7 linked regions of the Homo sapiens genome follow. The protein of the gene in region 1 interacts with the protein of each later gene in a biochemical or structural test. Each region holds a gene or a part of one and is shown on either strand. Other genes may lie near its edges.

The links.
Region 2: the proteins of PTPN3 (region 1) and RCN2 interact in a test that uses a peptide from one of them, tested with the Homo sapiens proteins (one large-scale study listed by IntAct).
Region 3: the proteins of PTPN3 (region 1) and FLVCR1 interact in a test that uses a peptide from one of them, tested with the Homo sapiens proteins (one large-scale study listed by IntAct).
Region 4: the proteins of PTPN3 (region 1) and ARHGEF7 interact in a test that uses a peptide from one of them, tested with the Homo sapiens proteins (one large-scale study listed by IntAct).
Region 5: the proteins of PTPN3 (region 1) and SLCO1C1 interact in a test that uses a peptide from one of them, tested with the Homo sapiens proteins (one large-scale study listed by IntAct).
Region 6: the proteins of PTPN3 (region 1) and KIRREL2 interact in a test that uses a peptide from one of them, tested with the Homo sapiens proteins (one large-scale study listed by IntAct).
Region 7: the proteins of PTPN3 (region 1) and MYOZ1 interact in a test that uses a peptide from one of them, tested with the Homo sapiens proteins (one large-scale study listed by IntAct).

Annotation. Positions count from the first base shown.
Region 1 is NC_000009.12:109,488,308-109,491,807, forward strand, and holds part of PTPN3 (tyrosine-protein phosphatase non-receptor type 3), read right to left. Parts: intron 1-3,500.
Region 2 is NC_000015.10:76,934,749-76,938,248, forward strand, and holds part of RCN2 (reticulocalbin-2 isoform a precursor), read left to right. Parts: intron 1-777; coding exon 778-974; intron 975-3,500.
Region 3 is NC_000001.11:212,885,775-212,889,274, reverse strand, and holds part of FLVCR1 (choline/ethanolamine transporter FLVCR1), read right to left. Parts: intron 1,385-3,500; coding exon 1,274-1,384; intron 787-1,273; coding exon 681-786; intron 130-680; coding exon 18-129; intron 1-17.
Region 4 is NC_000013.11:111,275,810-111,279,309, reverse strand, and holds part of ARHGEF7 (rho guanine nucleotide exchange factor 7), read right to left. Parts: intron 1,724-3,500; coding exon 1,637-1,723; intron 1-1,636. UniProt on the Homo sapiens protein: Acts as a RAC1 guanine nucleotide exchange factor (GEF) and can induce membrane ruffling. Functions in cell migration, attachment and cell spreading. Promotes targeting of RAC1 to focal adhesions. May function as a positive regulator of apoptosis.
Region 5 is NC_000012.12:20,733,332-20,736,831, reverse strand, and holds part of SLCO1C1 (solute carrier organic anion transporter family member 1C1), read right to left. Parts: intron 1-3,500. UniProt on the Homo sapiens protein: Mediates the Na(+)-independent high affinity transport of organic anions such as the thyroid hormones L-thyroxine (T4), L-thyroxine sulfate (T4S), and 3,3',5'-triiodo-L-thyronine (reverse T3, rT3) at the plasma membrane.
Region 6 is NC_000019.10:35,855,598-35,859,710, reverse strand, and holds the start of KIRREL2 (kin of IRRE-like protein 2 isoform c precursor), read right to left. Parts: upstream 2,801-4,113; 5' UTR 2,592-2,800; coding exon 2,531-2,591; intron 2,367-2,530; coding exon 2,217-2,366; intron 1,304-2,216; coding exon 1,154-1,303; intron 1,008-1,153; coding exon 847-1,007; intron 231-846; coding exon 80-230; intron 1-79. UniProt on the Homo sapiens protein: May regulate basal insulin secretion.
Region 7 is NC_000010.11:73,631,475-73,634,974, forward strand, and holds the end of MYOZ1 (myozenin-1), read right to left. Parts: intron 3,260-3,500; coding exon 3,010-3,259; intron 2,592-3,009; coding exon 2,426-2,591; intron 688-2,425; coding exon 456-687; 3' UTR 138-455; downstream 1-137. UniProt on the Homo sapiens protein: Myozenins may serve as intracellular binding proteins involved in linking Z-disk proteins such as alpha-actinin, gamma-filamin, TCAP/telethonin, LDB3/ZASP and localizing calcineurin signaling to the sarcomere.

The sequences.
Region 1 (3,500 bases):
CAGTCTGGTCTCGAACTCCTGACCTCAGGTGATCCACCCGCCTCTGCCTCCCAAAGTGCTAGGATTACAGGCATGAGCCACCGCACCAGGCTGAAAGTACATTTTTAAGCAGTAAAATCTAATAACACAGTTAACCAGAAAATCTTTCCAACATTCAGCAGTACTAGTATCTTGCATTCTAGGAACCGGAACATTCCTTTACTAACTGGCTTTTCCATTAAAGCTGCTGATGCCTAGAGTAATAAAAACACGACTGCACTGGACAGTGTTCTTAAAGTTCACATGACTGGGATGCTTCCCAGAAAATAGCTCCATTATCTTCACATTTTCATCCTATAATAATTTGTAATCCAGGAAGGCAAGGTTTGTATTTTCTTCTAGGCAGAAAATAAGTTAAAGAACCAGACTGTATGGATCCCAGAGCCTGACCCCTTGACCGAGTGTCTGGTCACTTGATATTACAAATCTAGACTTCCTGATAAATGGCCCTGTAGTGACCTTGTTACTGGGATCCCTAGATGCTGGTTTCCTGCCTGGTTTCTCTGCATCCAAGTCCCTGTCTGCATCTACTGTCCATCCAATGCCCATCCTCTTCTGCCTGGGTCCCCAATGCCACCTGCTTCCCTGCCTTTGCCAAAGGTCAGTGACTTAGTCATCATCTCAGAACTAGGGCTGGAACAGGGATGTGGGCGTTGGTGCAGGAAGAAGAGGTGGAAGTGTGAGCACTAGAGGAAAGAAGATAAGGTCTAGGGTGACTCCCGCCTCCTGCCCTTCTTTGCTTACACACCCTGGCTCTTAAATTCTATTAGAAATTGGTCAGTGGGAAGCACAGCTGGCTTGTTCATCTCCCTGTCCATCTATCATAAACTCTGTCCCTGCTCCTCCATCCAGCCAGGGTATGTGAGTGACGTTCCAGACTCTGCCAGTCCTTGTGGCAGACAGGTACCATAGTGAGGTGAGAGCTGACAAAAGGCCGGTGTGGCAGGCACAAAGCTGGGAGTGGCATCCTACTGGAGGTGGGACCACAGAGGTGTGGGGACCAAAGCCACAAACATCAGGCCTGCAGGCCATGCAGAGGTTAGTTTTGTCTTTATCCAGGTAGAAGATTCCTAGTGCTAGAGGGTTTTCCATGCTGGCTCACCCTGCACTGATCTCAACCTCGAAGTCACTCTTAAATCCGGACGTGACCACACGTCCGGATTTACCTAGGGCAGTCCCGGCTTAGACCCGTCAGTCATGTGCAATTATTAATAGGACCCCTTTTTATTCTCAAATTGTTCTGGTTGGGATGATAAATTCTAGTTGCACTGTTCTTGGGGGCCTAGGCCTGTGAAGTCAGTGCTGCAGTTAGAGAAGTCTACCCATGATTAGCAGGGACGCCCAGCCTGATGAGTCTCACCCCTCATCAAACATTCCATTTGCCTCTCCAGTATCCCTGCCAAACCATCATCTGGCTTCTGCTTGTATATCTGCAAGGACAGCAGGCTCACTATCTTCTCAGGAAGCCTCTCTTTTTTGGGGAAAGCTTTGTTATAAAAATAGCAGGATTCAAACCTGTATACAGTATGACTGCAACTAAATAACAACATCCAGGCCGGGTGGGGTGGCTCATGCCTATAATCCCAGCACTTTGGGAGGCCGAGGTAGGTGGATCACTTGAGGTCAGGAGTTCTAGACCAGCCTGGCCAACATGGCAAAACCTCATCTCTATTAAAAATACAAAAAATTAGCTGGGCGTGGTCGTGGACACCTGTAATCTCAGTTACTTGGGAGGTTGAGGCAGGAGAATCACTTGAACCCAGGAGGCAGAGGTTGCAGTGAGCCGAGATCGCGCCACTGCACTCTAGCCTGGGTGACAGAGCAAGACTCCATCTCAAAAAAAACAAAACAAAAACAAAACAAAAAAAACCCCACATCACTCAGCAGGGAAAGGCGTGGGGCTGGAAGAAAGCAGAAAACCTGCTGACTTTTCCCCTTGCACCTCCTTCCATCTCTCCCTCTCCTCATTCAACAAATATTTACTGAGTGCATTTGATGGTCCAGGGACTGTGCTTGGCACTGGGGACAAAATGGTGAGTTAAAACAGACTCAATGTGAGGGGCATTCTACAAAATAATTGGCTTGTACTTTCCAAAAACGTCAAGGTCTGGCTGGGCATGGTGGCTCACGCCTGTAATCCCAGCACTTTGGGAGGCCGAGGTGGGCGGATCACCTGAGGTCGGGAGTTGGAGACCAGCCTGACCAACACGGAGAAATCCCGTCTCTACTAAAAATACAAAAAATTAGCCGGGCGTGGTGGCACATGCCTGTAATCCCAGCTACTCAGGAGGCTGAGGCAGGAGAATTGCTTGAACCCAGGAGTCGGATGCTGCAGTGAGCTGAGACTGAGCCACTGCACTCCAGCCTGGGCGACAGAGCGAGACTCCATCTTGGAACAACAACAACAAAAAAAGTCAAGGTCCTGAAGGACCAAGAACAATTGGGGAACTGTCTTAGTTTAAAGGAAACTAACGAGACATGACAACCGTACGCAACCCATTTATAAGAGTTTTTTTTTTTTTGCTATAAAAAAGGACATCACTAAGACAACTGGCAAAACCTAACATCTAGGCCGGGCGCAGTGGCTCGGGCCTGTATCCCAGTACTTTGGGAGGCTGAGACAGGCAGATCACTTGAGGTCAGGAGTTCGAGACCAGCATCCAACATGGTGAAACCCTGTCACCACAAAAAATACAAACATTAGCCGGGCATGGTGGCACACGCCTGGAATCCCAGCTACTTGGGAGGCTGAGACAGGATAATTGCTTGAATCCAGGAGGCGGAGGTTGCAGTGAACTGAGATCACACCACTGCACTCCAGCCTGGGTGGCAGAGTGAGGGACACTCTCTCTCAAAAAAAAAAAAAAAAGTATATAAAACTTGAGGTTTATAGATTAAACAATGTTGTATCACTATTAATTTATTGATTCTAAAATTTGTATTGTAGTTACGGAATATCATCGCTTTTAGGAAATATATGTAGGGGGAAAGGAGGCATTGATAAATAATCCTCAAATGGTTCAGGATAGATATATATGTACACAGGGATAAAATAAAAAGAATAAAATGGTAATGTTTGGGGAATCTGGGTGAAGAATTTATGGGACTTCTTTGATTTATTCTTACAACCTTCCTATGGGTCTGAATTGTATCAAAATAAAACATTAAAAGAAAAAAAAATAAAACTTAGAAAAAGTTTTTTTAAAAAAGAGACCCTGCCTTCACACAGCTTACAGTGTAGCCGGGAGACAGGTACTAATACAAATAATTACATTAATTAACTGCAAAATTGCCACTAGGAAAAGTGCTATAATGGAGAGAGATCTGGTGGCATGAACATTTATAGCAACAATTTAACTCAAGTCAGGAAGGTGAGCAAAGGCTCTGCAATCATGGAGCTGAGACCCACAGGATGAAGTAATCAGTGGGGAGGGGGAGAAGGTCCCAGGCTCTTGCAGTCC
Region 2 (3,500 bases), on another chromosome or scaffold:
ACCTTCATAAATAAAAAACACTGTTTTTTCTCATACATACTAAAATAAATAGCTATCAAAATATTTATGCTTCCTGAGAGATCTGTGGTAGTTAGCAAAGGTTTTCTGCAAGATTTTGGATAACATTTTTTTTAAAAGTAAAGTGCTATTTTGGCCAGTTGGTAATTCATTCAACAAATACTTACAGAGCCAGGAACTTTCCAGGCATTTGATGTACATCAGTGAACAGAACATACCCAAACTTTTATGGAGCTTACATTATATTTAGATCATATGTTATAGTATGGAAGCTCCGGCCAGGCATGGTGGCTCACGCCTGTAATCCCAGCAGTTTGGGAGGCCGAGGCAGGTGGATCACGAGGTCAGGAGTTAGAGACCAGCCTGGCCAACATGGTGAAACCCCGTCTCTACTAAAAATACAAAAAATTAGCCGGGTGTGGTGGCACATGCCTGTAGTTCCAACTACTCAGGAGGCTGAGGCAGGAGAATCGTTTGAACCGGGAGGCAGAGGTTGCAGTGAGCTGAGATCGCACCACTGCACACTCCAGCATGGGTGAAAGAGCGAGACTCCATCTCAAAAAAAAATAATTAAAAGCTTCATGAGCTCTTCTAAACAGCCTTTCCCACTTCCTACCCCATTTCTATTAATACAACTAGGCCAATTCTCAGTATTTGCAAACATCAAAGATTTTGCCTTTTCAGAGAAGGTTTGGAAATCCTTACTCTTAAGTATCAGAATTAACGTCACATGCGTTGTGTTCTGGGAAATTCTCATAGGTGAACTCAGTTCATGGATTCAGATGTCTTTTAAGCATTATGCTATGCAAGAAGCAAAACAACAGTTTGTTGAATATGATAAAAACAGTGATGATACTGTGACTTGGGATGAATATAACATTCAGATGTATGATCGTGTGATTGACTTTGATGAGAACACTGCTCTGGATGATGCAGAAGAGGAGTCCTTTAGGAAGGTGAGTTCATGTGCACAAGCTGTTTCTTTTGATCATGTCAGTTCACTTTACCTTCCTGCATGAATGAGCACATTGAGGGCCTGAGGTCATAAGCTGGATTGTCTTGTTCTCTAGGAAATCACCTGTTCCACTTCAGCAGTCATTTTGATGGTTTCCTTTCTGGCCAGATTTAGGACTCTTATTCTAAATTACCTACATGATCCTTCTATCTGTTTTTCTCGGCTGCATCATTTAATTGTCCTCATTTCCAGAGTTGCTTTTTAAATGTGTTTTGAATGAGTATCTCAATATTTTAATATCATTGAATAATCAGTTTTATCTTTATTAAGAAGGCCATTATGGCCCATTCCCATTTTTAAACACATAGTTTTATATACTCACTTAAAAAAACTGCGGTTTCCACATCTGTGGATTCAAACAACTGAGAATCGTAAGTATCCAAAAAAGTAAGTATTAAAAAAAAAAAAACTGTGTCTCTATTCAACATATACAGAACTTTTTTCTCTTGATTATTCCTTAATATAGTATAACAATGATTTATTTCTCATTTAAGTTGTAATTTATATTATAAGTAATCTAGAGATGATTTAAAGCAGAGGTCCCCAACCTTTTTGGCACCAGGGACCAGTTTCATGGAAGACAATTTTTCCACGGGACAGTGTGTGGCGGGGGGGTGGGGAATGGTTTTAGGATGAAATTGTTCCACCTCAGATCAGCAGGCATTAGGTTCTCCTAAGGAGTGCGCAACGAAGATCCCTCACATGTACAGTTCACAGTAGGGTTTGCACTCCTATGAAAATCTAATGCCACCCCTGATCTGATAGGAGGCAGAGCAGAGCTCAGACGGTAATGCCTGCCACTCACCTCTTGCTATGTGGCCCAGTTCCTAACAGGCCATGAACCAATACCCGTCCGCGACCTAGGGATTGAGGGTCCGTGATTTAAAGTATTCAGGAAGATGTGTGTAGGCTATGTGCAAATACTGCACCATTTTATATCAGGGACTTAAGCATTCTCAGATTTTGATAGGGAGGTCTTGGAACCAATTTCCCAGGAATGTGTGAGGGAGGACTGTGTAACAAATTGACCATTGTAACCATTTTAAAGTGTACAGTTGAGTAATATTAAGTACATTCATGGTGTTGTGCAACCAATCTCCCCGACTCTTTTCATCTTACAGAGTGGAGACTCTCTACCCATTAAACAATAACTCCCCATTCCCTCCTCCCACTAGCTCCTGGCAACCACTGTTCTACTTTCTGTCTCTGAATTTGGCTACTCTAGGTACCTCATCTAAGTAGAATCATACGCCGTATTTGTCTTTGTAACTGGCTTATTTTTACTTAGAATCCTCAAGATTCTTCCATTTTGTAGCATGCATCAGAATTTCCTTCCTTTTTAAGGCAAAGTAATATTCTGTTGTATGTACAGGTTGAGTATCCCTAATTCCAAAATCAAAATGCTCTTAAATATGAAACTTTTGGAGCACTGACACGACACTCAAAAGAAATGCTCATTGAAGCATCTTGGATTTGGGATTTGCAAATCTCTGTGGGATCCTGCTTTCCATTGGTTTGGGTATATACCTGGAAGTGATACTGCTAGATCATACGGTAATTCTATTTTTAATTTTTTGAGAAACCACAGTACCATTTTTCATAGTGAGTACACCCTTTAAAATTACTCCTTTTTTTTTTTTATTTTTATTTTTTGAGACAGTATCTCACTCTGTTGCCCAGGCTGAAGTGCAGTGGTATAATCTCGGCTCACTGCCTCCTGGGCTCAAGCAGTCCTCCCAGCACAGCCCCCGAAGTAGCTGGGATTTCAGGCTCAAGCCACCACGCCCATCTAATTTTTGTATTTTTTGTAGAGATGGGGTTTTACCATCTTGCCCAGGCTAGTCTCAAACTCCTGAGGTCAAGTGATCTACCCACCTCAGCCTCCCAAAGTGCTAGGATTACAGGTGTAAGCCACGACACCTGGCCCCAAATTACTCATTTTTTGAAAATTTAGTATCTGTGTGAGTTCTAATGTGTCTCATGGTTTAATTTGTTGAAATATATGCTTCTTAAGCAGAGCTGAGAAAGACTAATTTTATTTAGGAATTAGGAACTTTTTAACACTTCTAGGAAGTCTATTAAACTAAAAGTATATCAACAGAAATGACTGTGAGCTTGAGAAATTGATATATCAAATACTTTTGTATTTCAAAGCTAATTTTAAAGAATTAAAATCTTTTTTATAGGTACATGATAGTTGTATTATACATACTTACAGAGTACATGTGATATTTTGATATCACACAAACGTATATTATAATGATCAAATCAGGGTAATTAGAGGATCACCAAGAATTTTTTTAAGATAGTTTTTATGTGTAGAAAAACATAAAAATAAAATCAAACATGCTGTTGCAAACTGTCCCAAAATATTAGTCAAGGGTGCTTGGAAAATATTCAAGGCTCTTCTGTTTCTTAACTTATCCTGTTTTGGTATATACCTTTTAATTTTTGTTGTGGCCATAAT
Region 3 (3,500 bases), on another chromosome or scaffold:
CAAACGCCCTAATTTACCTGTTAATATGATGCCTATAAACATCCAGACACAGAGAAAAATGTTCCCTGCCTTAGGACCATAGTCTGATGTGAGCTTTCCTTGAGCCAATGTGAACAAAATTCCAAATATCTAAAATACAATAAGAAAAATCATTCGTTATTAAGTTAAATTATTTAAAGCAAGTATAAAGTTTTCACCAGAACTTTTCTTATTTTGGTTATATGATTTGGTTTCTAGAAACATTCATTGAAAAGTTGAATTGTTAAAACAAAAACCACGGTCAGGCTGGGTGCAGTGGCTCACACCCACTGTAATCCTAGCACTTTGGGAGTTGAGGTAGGCGAATTGCTTGAGCCCAGGAGTCCGAGACCAGCCTGGACAACATGGCAAAACACCATCTCTACAAAAAATAACAAAAAAAATTTAGCTGGGCATGCTGGTGTGCACCTGCAGTCCCAAAAACTCTGGAGGCAGAGGGGGGAGGATTGCTTGAGCCTAGGAGTTTGAGGCTATAGTTAGCCATGACTGCACTACTGCACTCCAGCTTGGATGGCTGAGCAAGACTCTGTCTCCAAAAAACAAAACAACAACAACAACAAATAAAACCATGGTCAAACTCATTACTCACTAGAATATCTGGTATAATAATCATCTCAGGTTTAGAGAAATCAGAGGTTTACCTGTGCAGAAGCATTAAGAAGACCAGATGAAGTACCTTCAGATTCAGGGTAAGTGATTTCAACAGCAAATTCAAAACCCAAAGGGAGGTAACCAGTCATGAAGAAGCTAGGAAAATAAATCCAGAATTACAGAAAGAACTACCAGAAAGTCACAATCACATACTGATGCAATCATTCTGCCTCTCGGGCTTATTCTAATGACCAAATAAGTGAATATTTTGAAGTTGCTATGTCAAAGTAAGGAACTATTATCATTGACCAATCAGCTCAAGGTTACAGAACTGGAAGCAACAAATACACATTTTTTTCTGAGAAAAATTTACTTCTAGTTTTATAAGTTGATTGTAACCAAATAAAGTTACACAGATTAAGTAAGGCTCATCCATTTTTTACCTATGGTATACCAAAAACCAATTTTAAATAATTTTTAATAGTTCTTAAGAATTACATGTTTATATGCATAGAATGAATCCTTTAAAGTTTAAAATATTGAAGAAACTTTGGATGAACTGAAAAAATTAAAGACCAGAGTAATAATACTTCAGAATTATAACAGCATGCTATCATTCCTCCTAAACACATCTGATACTTACCCAAGCACCCCTCCAGTAACAAACACGATGATAATATATCTAAGGTCCAATGTGAAAGTAAAGATAACCATTCCAATAAAAGACAAAATATAAACTATCAGAGTAGTCTGTCTAAAACAAAAACAACAAAGCTGTTAGTATTTTGTCTGATTCTCCTAGGAATACAAAAATCATCACTCTTACCTGTTCAGTAATGAATCTTTGTTTTTCAAAGTTCACCCCTTCTTGTCCATGGAAATATGTATCCACCAAAGCACAAATTTTAAAGCATTTTTAATTTAAGATTCAGCAGCACCAGAAAACCACACCATATCGAATGCTCAGATAGGATCCTTTTATAGGAATAAAATCATTTTTATGCCACCAAATGGGATAGTTCCCTATTCACATTTCAAGATTCAGATCAAATTCTACCTCTTCCAAATGCCTTCTGTAACGACACCAGTTTATAAGAGTCTCTCTTTCTTCCAAATTCCCTTATCATACTGGCACTATAAAACTTATGACATCTATTTTAGTTTGTTATATTATTTAACTTTTCACATGTGAATGCCTTATTTGCTCCATTTAGACCACAAACATCTTAAGAACAGGGATCACATAATGCCAGCCATAATTTTCATCTAAGAAAGATGCACACAACAGGAGTTTGGTGAATGAATGGCAGTTACCCTGAGAAGGAAGCCACAGTGGCAAAGAACACACATCTATGCCTATCAAGTTTTCTAAATGTATAACGGATGAAAGACTTAAGAAATATAATCCTTTACATATGCTCCCTTCATCTATATATCAAGTAGGTTTCACTCTAAGCTATCATTTTAAAATAATGAAGCTAAGGCAAGTGCTGTCTTAAATTATGGAAGAATATGGAGAATTTCAAGATTAGAGATACTTTTGGTAGCGTTTAGACTAATAATATCAAATATATCTTGAGCCTTGAAAGGTACACGGGACACAGTTCCATATTTCATTCATTTATTCCTTAATAGTTTCATTCATTCATTTCCAAGTACAGGGGTAAGTTTTGGCATGTTACAAAATGTGGTGATTCTTTTCACTCCCAGAGCAAAATATGCTGCCTCTGAAACCCCTTTCTTAGTCTCCCAGTTGGTATCATTCATTTTCTTTGGTATTAGCCTTTTGGTGGTTCCATATAATGTACAATTAACAGAGTATATTCTTTTTTTTTTATTTTTTTAGACAGCGTCTTGCTCTGTCACCCAGGCTGGAGACCAGTGGCACGCTATCTCAGCTCGCTGCAACCTCTGCCTCCTGGGTTCAAGCAATTCTCCTTCCTTAGCCTCCTGAGTAGCTGGGATTACAGGTGCCCACCACCACACTTGACTATTTTTTGTATTTTCAGTAGAGATGGCGTTTCACCATGTTGCCCAAGCTGGTCTCGAACTCCTGGCCTCAAGCAATCTACCCGCCTTGGCCTCCCAAAATGCTGGGATTACAGGCATAAGACATTGTGTCAAACCAGCATTTTCACATTATGCATTATATTACAGTTAAGTGGTACTGTAGTCTGGGCGTACTTTAGCCAAAAAGTTCTTACCAAAATAAAGCCTTATGCTCAACAATAATTTTTTGATTGGAAAGAACTACTTTTTTGTTTTTGTATTTAAGCCCACAACATAAAAAAAGAACAACATAGGCCAGGTGCAGTGGCTCATGCCTGTAATCCCAGCACTTTGGGAGGCTGAGGTGGGCAGATTGCCTGACCTCAGGAGTTCAAAATCAGCCTGGGCAACATGGTGAAACACTGTCTCTATCAAAAAGTCAAAAAATTAGCCGGGTGTGGTGGCGCACACCTGTGGTCACAGCTACTCAGGAGGCTGAGGTGGGAGAATCACTTGAGCCTGGAAAGCAGAAGTTGCAGTGAGCCAAGATGGTGCCACTGCACTCCAGCCTGGGTGACAGAGTGAGACCCCACCTAAAAAAAAAAAAAAAAAAGAACAAGATAAAGTCTATCAAAAGTCAAATATTTCTCAGAAATGGCTCTTTTTAGAATAGAAATAATTCCTTCGGAAGTGGTAGGTATGAGTACTGTTAGAAAGAAGGGGCTCATAAGGTATCCAAGTTCTCAGAATTGAAATAAATGTGACCAATAAAATAATACAATACATAGAGTATTGAAACACTTGTTGCTGGGCGCGGTGGCTCACGCCTGTAATCCCAGCACTTTGGGAGGTCGAGGCGGGTGGATCACAAGGTCAGGAGA
Region 4 (3,500 bases), on another chromosome or scaffold:
ATCCAGTCCAGAACGTCAGCAGTGCCCAGGCTGAGAAATCTCATCCTAAAGCATGGCCGGTGGAAGAGGAGACTGCTGGACACTTCTGTGGCCAAGCGTATTTAAAAAATGCTACACACTGTGAACTCCTTTCCAAGATTCGTAATGCATATAAGTACTTTAACAGCTGTAAGTCCTACAGAAAATGAAACCGCACAACTGTGTTTAACCTAGCCCCTCTGAACATCGGTGTATAGAACACTATGACTGTGGCTGGACCGAACACTTTTTGGCATCCCCCAAAGCCAGTGTTCTAATGGTAGAAACGGATACCAATGATACAGAGACCATGGGTCACCACTGTGCTAAGAATGGAAAAATAAAATCCTGTTGTTGAGATGAGCTCCAGCAGTCTGTCAACACATCAAGGGCAAATCCAGTGTAAGCACCAGCCACACAGGCAGAGACTCAAGCCTGCCACAAGTGACAACCTCTTCTCTCCTTAGGTTAGAGAAGGCCCCTGCCTCCAGCCACTGGAATGAGATTCTGGGGATATAAAATCGGAAGCCAGATAGTGCTGACCAGAAAGGACAGAGATTTAGGTTTATCAAGGTCATTTAACACAGAAGTAGCTGCTAGTTTGGGGGAAACTGTAGTGGGCACTATCCTAGCCACAGATCACCTCTCTTCAGCAGTGGCCTAACAAACTACAGCCTCACTTTCCTGAGTCTGTTCCTACATATGTGATTCACCAATTCTAAAGCACGTGTGTTGGTGTAAGCGTATGGCCACAAGTCCTCTCTGGGTGTCGGCAGAGCCTCTGTGAGGGCATAGTGTCTGCTTAGGGATCTTGAACGTCCTTGCTGCGCCAACACAAAACAACACGTGCTACAATGAAATGCAACCCAGAGAACACGAAGTGGCGGCTTCTGCTGCAGTGGTTACGTGGTGACTGGCCAGTCCTCAGAAAGTTGATGGGAAGGATATGAGCCTCTGTAACTTCCCAGAAAAAGAAGAATGAAACCTGCCAAGTGCATCTACTAGACAGACAGCGAAAATACCAGCTCCTTCATATACCACCACTATAAACCACTGTCGCAACAGAAAAGGCCCTGCTCACCCTTGCACCTCCTTCCCAAATCTGCTGTCACATTTTCTCAAAGAGAAGCAGGGAAACAAAAATTAAAAAGGTTCAACGATCACACACTGCTACTTACACCCTTACATCACTTTCTGTTTGCTGATGCATTTGGGCGGTGCCGTGCCACTGACACAAGATCTTAGTCTACACTACCCCACTAACCCACAAGCCCTACTTGAACCAATTTCACAGAATAAAACCATAGCAAGGAGGAGCAAGGTATTTTGCATGAAACGACAGAAGGCAATGACAGAGACTGACTTGTGCCACAGTAGTCTGTGTCCTTATGAGGTTGCTCTACAGTTTACACTTCTTTCCTTTTTTGAAATTAACATAGGATATGCTTGCAGTCACAACGAAACACAAACAGGAGCTGTACGTCCATATCTGAATATACAGCACTACACACACAGCACATACACAGATAGATACACGTAATATTTAACACAAAATTCAAAGCCAGTTTGAAATTATCCTCAGATCCACAATAAAATATAAATTTAAATTGTGTTTTACCTGATAGATAAAGCCACTCATCCTAGGACTGGCAGACAACATTAGCAAAACATTTGGGAAGAGTAGAAGATATCTTTCATTCTTTTCCTAATACAAAAAAAGAAATCCAAAACATTTCTTAAAAAACATCTACTTAACAAATGTGAGCACAAATACTTCACTTATTTATACTAGGCCCTATGAAACATTACATGATATTTCTCGTTTAGGTATTTCTATCAAGTTTTATCAGGTAAATTAAATGGAAACAATTATGATAAATTCTGTATTAAGTCTTAACATATGATTATGAGAGAGCTTTAACATATAGGTAAAGAGAAGGACTTCCAAATTCTTCAAAAAACAAAAGGTAAGAAAGTAAACGGACTGATTAAAAGATCCTGGACTCACAATTAGCCTGTGTAACATCTTGAAACTATATTTGGTTAAAGAGTTCAGCTCTGTGATTAACTATTTTCAGGTAAGCTAAAATTTTCTTTTTCTGGTTCAGAGAAAAAGGAGAGAACCTATAAATTTTAATGGGGTCAGGGGGAACAGGTGGAGTCTTTAAGCTAAAGAAAGGATAAAATGTTAAAATCAATTTTGGTCTACTAGTAATTCCTGGCACTTCCCAAACCTCCCAAATGTCGACTCAGTGTTGTTTTCATCCACCCCATAAACATCACCTGGTTTACATCAGACTTAAAAGTATTACTTATGTATTAAAAATCATTTGCTTCAGTAAGATAAAAGCCAAAGAGACCATAAGTGAAAGAAAAAAGTTCCTAAGAATCCAAAAAGAGACAAAAAAATGCCACAGTCCTTTTCACATGTTGACATTTAAACTACGGCCCAAAAAAGTGAAATCAGTCCTAGGAATTAGTTTCCCCAAGTATATTCCTCAGAACATTAGGCTTATGCAAAGCACCTTGAGAAAAGAGTCTTCCGTACTTTAAAGAAGTCACTGAGAACGACTTGCTATATTCCCCTCTTGAAGAATCACAACATACATTGGGAACATTCACAGCCAAGTCTCTGAGGAGCTCTATCATAAAGAATCTTTTCCACTAATTACGTTCAGTCGTGATCAGAACCACTCTGAAGCATTTTGGAGTAACACCCACCAGTGCTGTATAGATCTAATATTATAAAGAACACACTTTGGGAAATGTTTCCACAGATTAAAGTTTAAAAGAGCATGACTCAAAAAGAAACTTCTTCTGAAAAGATGTGAAGTTTTTATAATCATGGTTTCTTATGGTACCCAAACTACAAGACTATGTAGAAGGGGTGATATTTTACAGGTGGAAAGGAAAACACACTATATAAGTTTGAAGTTTTAGTTTTCTTATTCTCCTTGGAGTCTTGTGTTCAAAAATGAGTCATTTCGCATGTTTTGATCATGTTATTTTTGCAAAGGTAGAATAAAATTCAGAAAGAGGTGCCTGTTCAGTGACCCATTGAATGTATGTCAATGTGAATCATGAAACAAACTGCTCGATTTTCACTGTGTGGGTGGGTATGTCCCAAAAATCTGGGTTGATCTCTCACTTAAACCAAACCTGTAAGAAAACTGTGACTCCTGTAAGCATATGTCAGCTAGCATACTTTCACAGGAAAGTATAATGACCCGAAAGCATTGAGAGCAGCAGGTCCCTGTGAGAGTGAGCCTTGGTACAAAGTTGCTGGCCAGATAAGCGCATACAGCTCCATGCGGATGTGTGCACAGGACTCCTGCAAGTCTTTCTGCACACTATCTATCCTTCAGTTCACGTGGGCTTCGGGCCACACTGACTTCAGCTGGATCAAACTGATCAACAAGTCCACACTCAGCTCTAAGCCTCTCTAACATGCCATAAGCCTCTCTCCTGTGTCAAGAATAAAA
Region 5 (3,500 bases), on another chromosome or scaffold:
TAATATACTTCTGTGCAAAGGTGTATAAAAATAGCTAACAAGGTAGAAAAGTAAACTTTTAGAGCAATTTATGACACTACTTCAATGCATCACAGGTGGGGTGTGTGTGTGTGTTGTGTGTGTGCAAATTTCATTCAGAATTGTTGTCTAAGTATGAGTGGAATGGATATTACTAATGGTCCAGTAAAAGGAAAAATAGCCAATCAGTTATCAGTTAATTCTCTTTCAGTGTTTGCAGGAGTTACATGTCCTCTTGCATGTGTGTAACCAACAAGTGCATTCCCAGTTCATTCAACCTTTCTCCTGTGTATCCTCCCAGTGTATAGTGCTCTTTCATATCTTATAGCATCCTTTCTTACTCAAATTCACAAGTAAGTTCAATGACTTACCCATTTATTTGTTGATAAAATTTTACTGGAAGCCTACTAAGTGCTAGCTCCGGGAGAATAGGAGATGGTTACAAACATTAATGAGACAAAATTTGCACCCCCCCCCAAAATTGGTTTTTTTGAGTTATTTCACAAAATTGTGATTGCATTCTTTCTTTTCTCCTTCATTTTTTTTTGTTCTCTGCCATTCGCTTTTATATTTATCCTTCATCTCTCCCAGTATTCTCTCTCCCTCACTTTTTTTTCTGTCACCTGAATGGCCTAATCCTTCTGCTTTTATCCTTTTTTTTGCTATTCATATTCCTCTACTCTTCTCAAAAGGAACTTTTGCAATGGTATGTCATTTCTATCTGCACCATATGTGCCATTCATTGGCCCTCCATACTTCATTTTTTCTGCTCCTTATTTTCAAATTTATTTATTTGCTTATTCCTCATATCTTTCCTCCCATTTTTTATAAAGATAGCTGAGGAGCTTAAACAAACAAAAAATACACTGAACTGTACAATCAAGAGAGGCAGGAACTATTTTTGTATTCACTCCCATATGTCCAGAACCAGGAATAATTCCTGTCACACAGCAAGCTAAGAAACAAAATTTCCAGTAAGTTAGTCAATTAAAAAATGGTACTTTATTTTGGAGAAATAAATTAATCACTTGAGCCTCTGCCTCTGAGAAGTATTGTCATTAATGATGGCAACCATAATTTCTTAATCAGTGTAATACTTCATCTAGTAGAACTGGTATGATGAATTTTGTCACCTCAAAAGTACAAACCAAAGACCTCTGAGATGTCTCCAAATAGTGTGAAAGGGTACTGAACTAGGCCTTCTGAGATGTGCTATAGGAATGTTTAATCCTATTCTCTTCCATAAAATTTTAATTGTTAACTGAGACTGTTTGTATTATCTGAAAGTATAAAACTGCCTTTTAAAGTCTAGAATCATTTAACTCTGGAAACTGTAGGGCTGAGATTATAGAAGGTTGGAGCTGGAGGGAACATTGGAGTAATCTATGCCAACCTCTTACTTGGCAGATCAAGGAAGTCAGCCCCTACGTGGGTGGGTAACATGCTCAAATTCACACTGCTTGCTAGTGACAAACCTGGAAACTGAACCCTGCCAGGTTTCTTGATTGTAAATTCTTATGTCCACATCAGAGTTGTCCTTGTTATTGCAGAAGAGAGATTTCTTCCATTATCATATCTAAGACTTGTCTTCAGTTTTCCTATTGAATATTCAGGTCAAGACAGCGTTTGGAATAAAGCAACATGGAAAAACCCATGGGAAACATTTTATATTTTATAAAGAAAAATACTTTATAGTATTGAAAGTTTAATTTATCATCAGGGGCAGGAATCATTGGGATACATCTTTTCTGAAGGATGTGCTGACAGTAGATTTGTAATTTAGAATTTTAATTATAAGACGAGTTTTAACAAATATGCCAGAATGTTTATGCCCAAATGAGATTTCCTTTCAAGATAGTTATGCTGAAAGATGAGAGCTTTTCCTTAAAGGTTAAATCTTTGCCCTTGTTAAGAATATTCTCAAAAATATACAAAGAAATTCAAAATAAGAGTCTTAGAATATTTTAAACAACAGTAGCATTACTGCAATACAATTATAGTCTTTCAAGGTGACTCCTTTGAAGAGGCTAGTACTCACTCAATGAAAATGTTACCTTTTATTTGTTTAAAATATTTAATCTTTGATTATGTAGGAATACTTTTAATGGGAATCTCAAAGTTTGCTTTTGTTGTCTGCTTTGTGTTTACTTTTGGCTTAGAAATTATGATGCAGAAAGAATGTTCTACTTTGAGTCACGCCTGTGTTCAAACCCCAGATCCATGCAGTTTCTTTTAAACAAGGATAACAAAACTAAACTCATAAAGGTGTTTTGAGGATATAATGAGATCATGAAAGTTAAGGTGTTTTGGAAATCACAAACTATAAAGTCCTCTACAACTGTCCCTCTACCGTGAGGATTTCTGGGACAGTTAAAGATGGCACTGGGCTTCTGCTCTCTCCAGAATCATCTTCCATTTCATTGTTACAACTAACATTCTTAATCCATATCACTGACTTTCACTAAGGCAGCACTACACTCAGCTGAGTCTAACAATGTGGCTGTGATAACTCCCAGAAGCCGTAATTTATGAACTTTGCATTCACCAATCTTCCTGAACATTGTAGATGGCCAAAACTATAACAGGCGCTCATTTAGCAGCAGATGAAACCAGGTTAATAAAGGTGATGGAAGTTGGAACATAGAGACAAGACAGATAAGCAGGGAAGCAAGAGTAGGACGGGAGATGGACAGCAGGCTGTAAGCAAGAAGCCACAGAATAGGCAGGAAACAGAATATAGTGTCAGGAGTGTTTGCTTTTGAGCCACAGGCAGAGTTTCAGGTGGCCAGGCAGATACAGTTGGGAAGGCCTTCCTGGCACATGATGGAGACTCGATAATTTTTTTAGAAAACAAATAATGCATATATAGGTGAAATGATGAAGAAAGTTACCTCTGGAAATTCATGTGAAGTGGTAGAGTGATGGGAAAGACTCTCAATGGGCAAGGGCAATATAGTTCCTACAAGATTCAACCTTGTATTGAGAGAGACTCTGGAAACCAAGCAATGTAATCACCCACCCCATACAAGATGAGAGGCCTGAAGGCATCACTAAATATTCTCCTGACCAATTGCAAGACACTCAGCTAAAGAGAACTTTTATGGGGAACACTGGGTTGAAGGACAGGCGTTGTTTCCTGAAACTTTACATGATTCAAGCACAACAGCAACTATGGAGGATTGCAAAGAGGTAACTCCAGTTCCTCAGATGTTCAAAGGAGGAAGAAAACAATTGTTTCCATGAATGGCACATTTAGCTTGTGTCAGGCAAGTAGCATTCACTTTCATGTATGTTAGCTTGCTTAAACCTTACAAAAGTTTAAAAGGTAGTTATTACTTCTGTTTTTAAGATGGGAAAATTGAAGTTGGATTAGTTTAAACCACATGTACATCATTTCATTAAGAATAGACAGAGGCATTATTCAAGGTTTGTATTTCTGCTATCATGTTGTTTTTCTAAATTAATCAGGTTGGTTCTCTAGT
Region 6 (4,113 bases), on another chromosome or scaffold:
AAGGGCCACAGTCCCCTCCTTCCTCATACCCAGGAGTCAGGGCCCCACACCCCTCTTTCCCAGGGCCAGCTGCACTCACACTGCAGGCTCAGTGTGATAGCTGTGTCTCTTCCTGTGGGCAGGGCCTGGCTCCGGGCCCGGCAGACAAAGGTGGCTCCATCATCATGGCTGAAAGGGGTCAGGGTTAAGGTGCTCTCCACTGACCCAGGGGTCCCTTCCTTCAGCAGGGTCTGGAGGGAAGGATAAGAATAATAATGCCATCTACCCATCAGGGGTGTCCAATCTTTTGGCTTTCCTGGGCCACATTGGAAGAAGAATTGTCTTAGGCCACACATACTAACACTAATGATAGCTGATGAGCTAAAAAATTACAAAAAAGTCTCATAATGTTTTAAGAAAGTTTATGAATTTGTGGTGGGCCACATTCAAAGCCATCCTGGGCTGCATGCAGCCCATGGGCCGCAGGTTGGACAAGCTTGCCTTACTTATATAGTGCTCACTATGTATTGGTCACTCTTCTGGGCATTTATAGGTATTTATTTATTTAATTCTCACAATACCCTATGACATGCATGCTACTATTATCCTGATTGTATAGATAAGGCAACTGAGGCACAGAGAGGTTAACTAACTTACTCAAGATCAATCAACTAGCAAGTGGCTGAGACATAATTTGAACCCAGGTAGTCTGGCCCTAGAATCTTTACCCTGCATCATATTTCAAGAGTCCAAACCCATGAACCTCTGCCCTCCCATGTCTTCTTCTCTTCTGGATGAGCCTGTGGTCAGAGTGTAACCCAAGTTTCCCTCAATGGGCAAAGGCTAGCACAGGAATTTGGACCTGACCTGATGGAAGGTGGCTCCATCCAACAGGACCCCATCTCGGAACCACAGCAATTCAGGGGTAGGGCGGGCATCCCCACGGCTCCGACATGTCAGGTTCGCAGGAACTCCAGCAACCAGAGACACAGAGGGGCCGCCCAGCACCTGGGGGGCTTCTGGGGGGACTGCAAGGTGGATTTGGGGTCAGAGATGGATCCTGATCTTCTCAGCTCCAATTGACCATGCCCCTGGGCTCCCTGGGCTCTGCTACTCACAGCTAGTACGGGCTGCCCTCTTGGGCTCCCAGGGGACAAGTGGGCGAGGTCCTTACCCAGCACGTGCAGTTGGGCTGGTCTGGAGCGGAGGCCTGCTTGTGTAGCCTGACATTCATATGATGCTTCATCCTCTAGCTCCACGGGCCTAATGTGGAGGTCATGCTGGCCATTGGCTGCATTCCCTGATATCCAGTACCGGGACCACCCTGGAGTCAGGGAGAAGGCAGTCAGCACACCATGGTTCTGAAATCCTGGCCTCAGGCCTCCATCCCCAGACATCCTCCACCAGAAAACTGGCCCACACATTTGGTGGTAAGACACTATTAAAAAGTGTGTACTGGGCCCAGAGAGACTCTAACTCCCTCCCAACCCAGAGTCACTGCAAACTTAGGGGTAATAAAGTCAGGAAGGAAAGCAAGAAAATGATTGCCATAAAAATTAGGTTAGATACTACTTCTGGAGTGAGGGGGAGGGGGCTATGATAGGGGAAAGGAACACGGGGTCTTCTGGGGAGCTAGCAATGGACTTGGGTATTGGCTGTGTGTGTCTATTTTATTTGGTAAATCTTCCATTTATATTTACTGTACTTTTTTGCATTTATGTTCTCTTTTTTTTTTTTTTTTGAGACAGGGTCTCACCATTGCCTGAAGTGCAGTGGCTTGATCATGGCTCACTGCAGCCTTGAACTCCTAGGCTCAAGCAATCCTACCACCTAAGCCTCCTGAGTAACTGGGACTATAGATGCACACCACCATACCCGGCTAATTTGTTTAAAATATATATATACATTTGTGTAGAGATAAGGTCTTGTTATGTTGCCCAGGCTGGTCTCAAACTCCTGGTTTCAAGCGATCCTCTGGCCTCAACCTCCCAAAGCGTTGGGATTACAGGCGTGAGCCACTGCACCTGGCCTATGTACTATTTTGCAATAACATAATAATTCCCAAACTCCGTGGGTCACCCCCAAAGAAGCAGCTCAAAAATCAGGACTCCTAAATGTTTACCCGAGCCCATCAATTTCCCAAACTTGAAAATGTCAAAATAGAAACTGCAGGTACAGCCGAGCCCAGCAACTCTCCCCCTAGCCAGCCCGTCCCAGCGTGGAGAGAACACTCTTACCTGGTAGGTCCCTTTGGCCCCCTAGGGCCAGCCCACTCTTAGTCCACTGAACTAGCCCCCAGTAGGCGCCCAGAGCACACGGCAGCCGGGCTTCCTCCCCCAGCAGCACCACCAGGTCCTCTGGCTGTTGCAGGAAATGGGGCGACGGGCCTAGGAGAGTTCGGGGCAGCAGGGCTGAGCTTAGCACCTTCAGGGGCCTCCTCATTCAGGACCCAGGAGTCCCAGCCCCCAGCTCCCTTCTCGCTAGTGAAGAGGCAGCCCGCAAGCAACTCCCCACCCCCACCCCATATTCCTCCGCTCCCCTCGTGCGGTACCTGCTCTCCCTCTGAAGCAGAAGAGGAGGACGAGGAGGGCGGGGACCCGCATCCTGAGCATTCGTCCCCCAAGGTTCACGAGATTTGCCGTCGCACTGGCCTTCCCGTCAACTTCTTCCTCTCAAGCACGCCTCCTGTCACCCTGGCCCGGAGCCCCCTTCACGCTCGACTCTTCGCCCAGCCTAGTCTCTGGCCTGGAGTCCTCCAAGTCTGCTCATCCGCAGCCTCTGACGCTCTGAAACGCCTGCCAGTTCCGCGGCCTGGGTCTCTGGGAGACCCCAAGAGGGCCCGATCCCGCTCGCCCCGCCCGGGTCCGCCCCCCGGGAGCTCCGCCCTCTTCCCGTTGAGAAACTCCCGCGGCTGAGACGCGGATGAATGGGGGACGCAGGGCGGGATCCCCCGGCGGGTGGGCGCCCCCAGCTCAATTGGGGTCTGGGAGCCGGAACACCTGGGTTCGAGGAGGGAGGGGGTCCCGGCTGGGTTGGACACCTGCGCCCTGCCGGGGTTGAGGGGCAGGCAAGGGGTGAGGAGGAGGGAAGGGAGAGAGTGGAAGAAACTTGCTCAGCCCAGGTCCTAGAGGGACTGCGCTCAGTGGAAACTGAGCTATAAATGGGAGCTCCTGGGGCCTCGCCAGTTTCCGCGCCCTGGGGGATGCGGGGTCCGGGGCTCCCCCGGGCCTGCGTGTCGGGAAGAGGGCACACCGATACCTGGGGGACAGTTGGGACCCCTACCTCGACTCCCCCAGCCTCAAAACCCCTCCTCAAAATATCCCTCTGTTCCCTTGTTATTGCTGCAAACTACAGCACGTCCTAAGACCCAGGAATCCAGGCCCTCGGCCCCTCCTTTCCCAGGACCCCGCAGTCCCAGCCCAACCCCTCTCCCCACTCGGCCGGCCGGGCCCCTCGGCCTGGTTGCCCGGCGACGGCTGGGAGGCGGCGGTGCCGGGCCGGGGCAGGCAGGGAGGCTGGGAACCGCGCAGCTTGTCCTGACGGCTCCATGCAGCCCAGCTGGGGCGTTCCCACGCTGCGCAGCTGGCCGAGCAGGTGGGAGGGACCCCGAGCAGCCTGAAGGAGGGCTGGGGGGCTGGGACCCTGATCTGACATTCCTGGACCTGTAAGAACTGGAGGGTCCACATTCAGATTCTCCACTGTTCTTAGGCTCAGACTCCGTGTCCCTAAATGGGGGAGTGGGGTTGGGAGTGGGGGTTGGACTTACAGGGTTATAAGGGACTGGTGGTTCAGGCCTTTGCTGGCTGAGACGCTGATGGCCTGATCTCCCGGTTCCTTGAGAGGCTGGAGACTCAAGGTGCACTCAAGTGCATGGTGCACTTGGAAGAGGGTGACAGGGGTCAGAATATCTGGTCTTAAGTCTTAAGAGTCGGTGGATCTATCTGCCAATCTCTCCCCACCCCCACACAGGCCCAGGAGGATTTGGAAATCAGACCGTGAACATCTGTCCTAAGTCCTGTGTGTATGTGTGTGTGTGTGTGTGTGTGTGTGTGTGTGTGTGTGTGTGTGTGTGTGTATGGGGAGGTGCGGGGGTGGGTAGTGTGGCCAGGAGGATCAGAGGCCCAAATTCCCGAG
Region 7 (3,500 bases), on another chromosome or scaffold:
CGTCTTTGTAAGTAACTATGAATGTGGTTTTGTGCGTATGGGTGTAGGTGTGTAAGCAACTGGAGCTCAGATCTGTCTTAAAGTTTGCATAATTAATGTTTAGTATTTGGCTTTAATTAGTCTCTGTGCATTGTTAGCCTCGGCTTTCATCTGCTCTCAAATATCAAAGGAAGAATGAGTTCATTTTCCTTGAAGTTTATTGACTGTTACTGGTGGCAGAGCAAATTCCATAAACGAGCAGGTTCCATATGGAGCAAGTAGAAGGGGAGCTCTGAGTTGGTGAGGAAGGATGCGTGGAGTGGGGACTTGGAGTAAAGGATGGAAAGGTAGATCTCTCCTTTTTCCCTCCATTCCCATAAGGATACTGGATTAACAATGGGGGCTATCTGCTCAGCATTCCCTCTCCAAATTGGAGCCAGAGAGGGGAAATGATGCAAATCAGAGGAGGAAACACCTCACAGCTCCTCTGTTTCTCCATCCAAGGGGATGCCAATATCCACGTTGTAGTCTACAGGCTCCCCAGAGCTCAGCCAGGGAATAGGGGTTCGATTGAAAGAAGGCCTGTTGGAGAGGTTTTGGTTGTAGAGGACCAGGGGTTCACTCAGCAAGGGCCCCAGGTCAAACTTGGGCATCTGGAAGGTCATGCGTTTGGAGGCCTTCTCATATCCACCATAGGGCATTGCCGTCCTGAGAAGGGGACACATTATTTAATTAAGAATCAGAATAAAAGAAACAGAGCCTTATCATGAGATGCTACCCTCTTTGAGAATAGGGAAGTCTGTGAATTCTAGTTTGGGATTGCATCTGTACTCCTTCTTCTTCCTTAGCATCCCATTTTGCCTTCCTGGTTAGCTTGTTTCCCCAAAGCTAATAATGAGAAAAGGAGTCTAGTGTGTACTAGAGACTCTTGGATAGCTGTGACCCAGACCAGCATTTCAGAGAAAGTGACCCCAAATACTATAGACCCAAGGGCCTGAGGTCACCTTACATGACAATGTAGAAAGGCCAGGTGCGGTGCGGTGGCTCACGCCTGTAATCCCAGCATTTTGGGAGGCCAAGGTGGGTGGATCACTTGAGACCAGGAGTTTGAGACTAGCCTGGTCAACGTGGTGAAACGCCATCTCTACTAAAAATACAAACACCCCCCCCCCAAAAAAAAATTAGCTGGGCATGGTGGCGCACCCCTGTCATCCCAGCTACTCAGGTGGCTGAGGTATAGGAATTGCTTGAACCCAGGAGGTGGAGGTTGCAGTGAGCCGAGACTGCACCACTGCACTTCAGCCTGGGCAACAGAGCAAGACTCTGTCTCAAAAAAAAAAAAAAAAATTGCAATATAGAGACCCCCTCTCTCCAACCCTAGTGGACAGTGGATAGCCTGGCTAAGAGTAATTATTGTTGCCTGGAAAATCCAGGCTCCTTAGGACCAAATACAAGAGTACCTTTCTAGCTCTTCCCTATCCTTTCACACAGACCTCCTCTCCATGGGCTAGAGAAGCCTAATTCCAAAAGAACAGAGACTTAGAGCCATCTAAAGCAGGGTGGCCAGGCATGGTGGCTCACGCCTGTAATCCCAGCACTTTGGGAGCCCGAGGCGGGCAGATCACCTGAGGTCAGGAGTTTGAGACCAGCCTGGTCAACATGGTGAAACCCCATCTCTACTAAAAATACAAAAATTAGCTGGGCGTGGTGGCGGGTGCCTATAATGCCAGCTACTAGGGAGGCTGAGGCAGGAAAATCACTTGAACCCAGGAGGCGGAGGTTGCAGTGAGCTGAGATCATGCCACTGCACTCCAGCCTGGGCAACAAGAGCAAAACTGAGTCAAAGAAAAAGAAGGAAAGAAAGAAAAGAAAAAAGTATAAGGAAATAGAATCATATTACAGGGAGAATAATGGCATCCTAACCTTGAATGGAAGAGAGCCTCAAGAGGCCTTCAGACATGTAAAATGTTATTCGCATTTAACATTCAAAGCAGGCCGGGCACGGTGGCTCACCCCTGTAATCCCAGGTCTCAGGTAGGCAGAGGCGGGAGGATAGCTTGAGCCCAGGAGTTCGAGACCTGCCTGGGCGATATAGCGAGACCCCATTCTCCACAAAAAGGAAGCAAAAAAAAGACAAAAAATAAATAAGTGTAACGTTCAAAGCAACCCAGGCTCAGAGGTAGAGTGATTTTCCCATGCCTACACAGCTAATAAATGACCATTGAGCTAGAATTCAAATCCTGCCTCCCAGCAAATTTTTTCCTTCATCACACTGCTATGATGAAGCTGAGATAGAGTGAAAAGAGCAGGGCCTTTGATTAGGACCCCCATATCCCTGCCATCTCTCCTTAGCCTCCTTCTGAAACATTTGAATTAGTCTCCATCCTAACTAAAGACACAGTGCCTCACACTAGAATGCATCTGGTTCCTTCCTCACCACCCCTACCTGTTGAAGGACTTATATTTGGGAAGTTCAGCTTTGGCCCCATAGGCCAGCAGGTCAATGCCAAGTTCCATTTTTTGCTGGGGGTCAACCCCCATGGCTCGCTCCCATGGGGAAATATAGGTCTTGAACACAGTGATATGTTTTCCTTCTCCGCCTGCCTGGTCTCCTGGTAGCCATGGGAGAGAAAATTCAGTCAAATAATAGCATTTAGTAGCCAATGAAAGGTAATCCCACGCCCCTACACTAGGGAAATTGCAAGAGCCAGGGACTAAAGATATAATATCCTGGTAATTGTATAAGGTTTGTGGCATAATGATAGTCTGTGGGCAGATCTGTGACTGAATCCGAAAAGCCAGGAAAGTAACTGAAAAACAAGGCTTCTGGGTAGAATAGACACATCTCTATATACTCCTGGACCCAGGTAATTCACCAAGATATTTATGATATTTAAACTGATATTATTATATTTAATATTAAGATATTTAAACTGACCTCCTCTGCTCCCCACACTCAGCGTAGACATCATTCCTGGGACAACTCTGCTCTAGGGACCAAACACATTACTCTTGGGTGAGTGTACTTGCCTGATCCTGTCTCACCAACCCCTGCTGTGCCAGCAGCTCCTCCTCTGCCAGCCTGGCCCGCGGGACCACCTGTACCCCCAGCTCCAGACCCAGAGCCCAGATGGTGCTGCTGATCAGAGCCATACTGTCCGGCAGAGCCACTGCCCCCTGCCTGGCTGCCGCCTCTGCCGTTGCTCTTGCTGTATGAGAATCCCTGACCAGCTGTGCCCAGCTGTCCCCCCACTGTTGGAAGGAACTTCTGGAAGTGATCCTGAAAAGAAGACAAAGTGAGGGGAAGGTTAGCAATGGGTATGGAAAATATACAAAAACAGAGGTATGTTTAGCAAAGGCAGAAATAGTGGCTAACCAGAAGACCCTGAATTTTCTGATATTTCCCCCTCCAGTTGATGGGTAGTACATGGGCTGACTAAGAGAATTAAACTCTTCTTTTTGTTTGTTTGATTTTTTGTGGTTTTTTTTAGACAGAGTTTCGCCCTTGTTGCCCAGGCTGG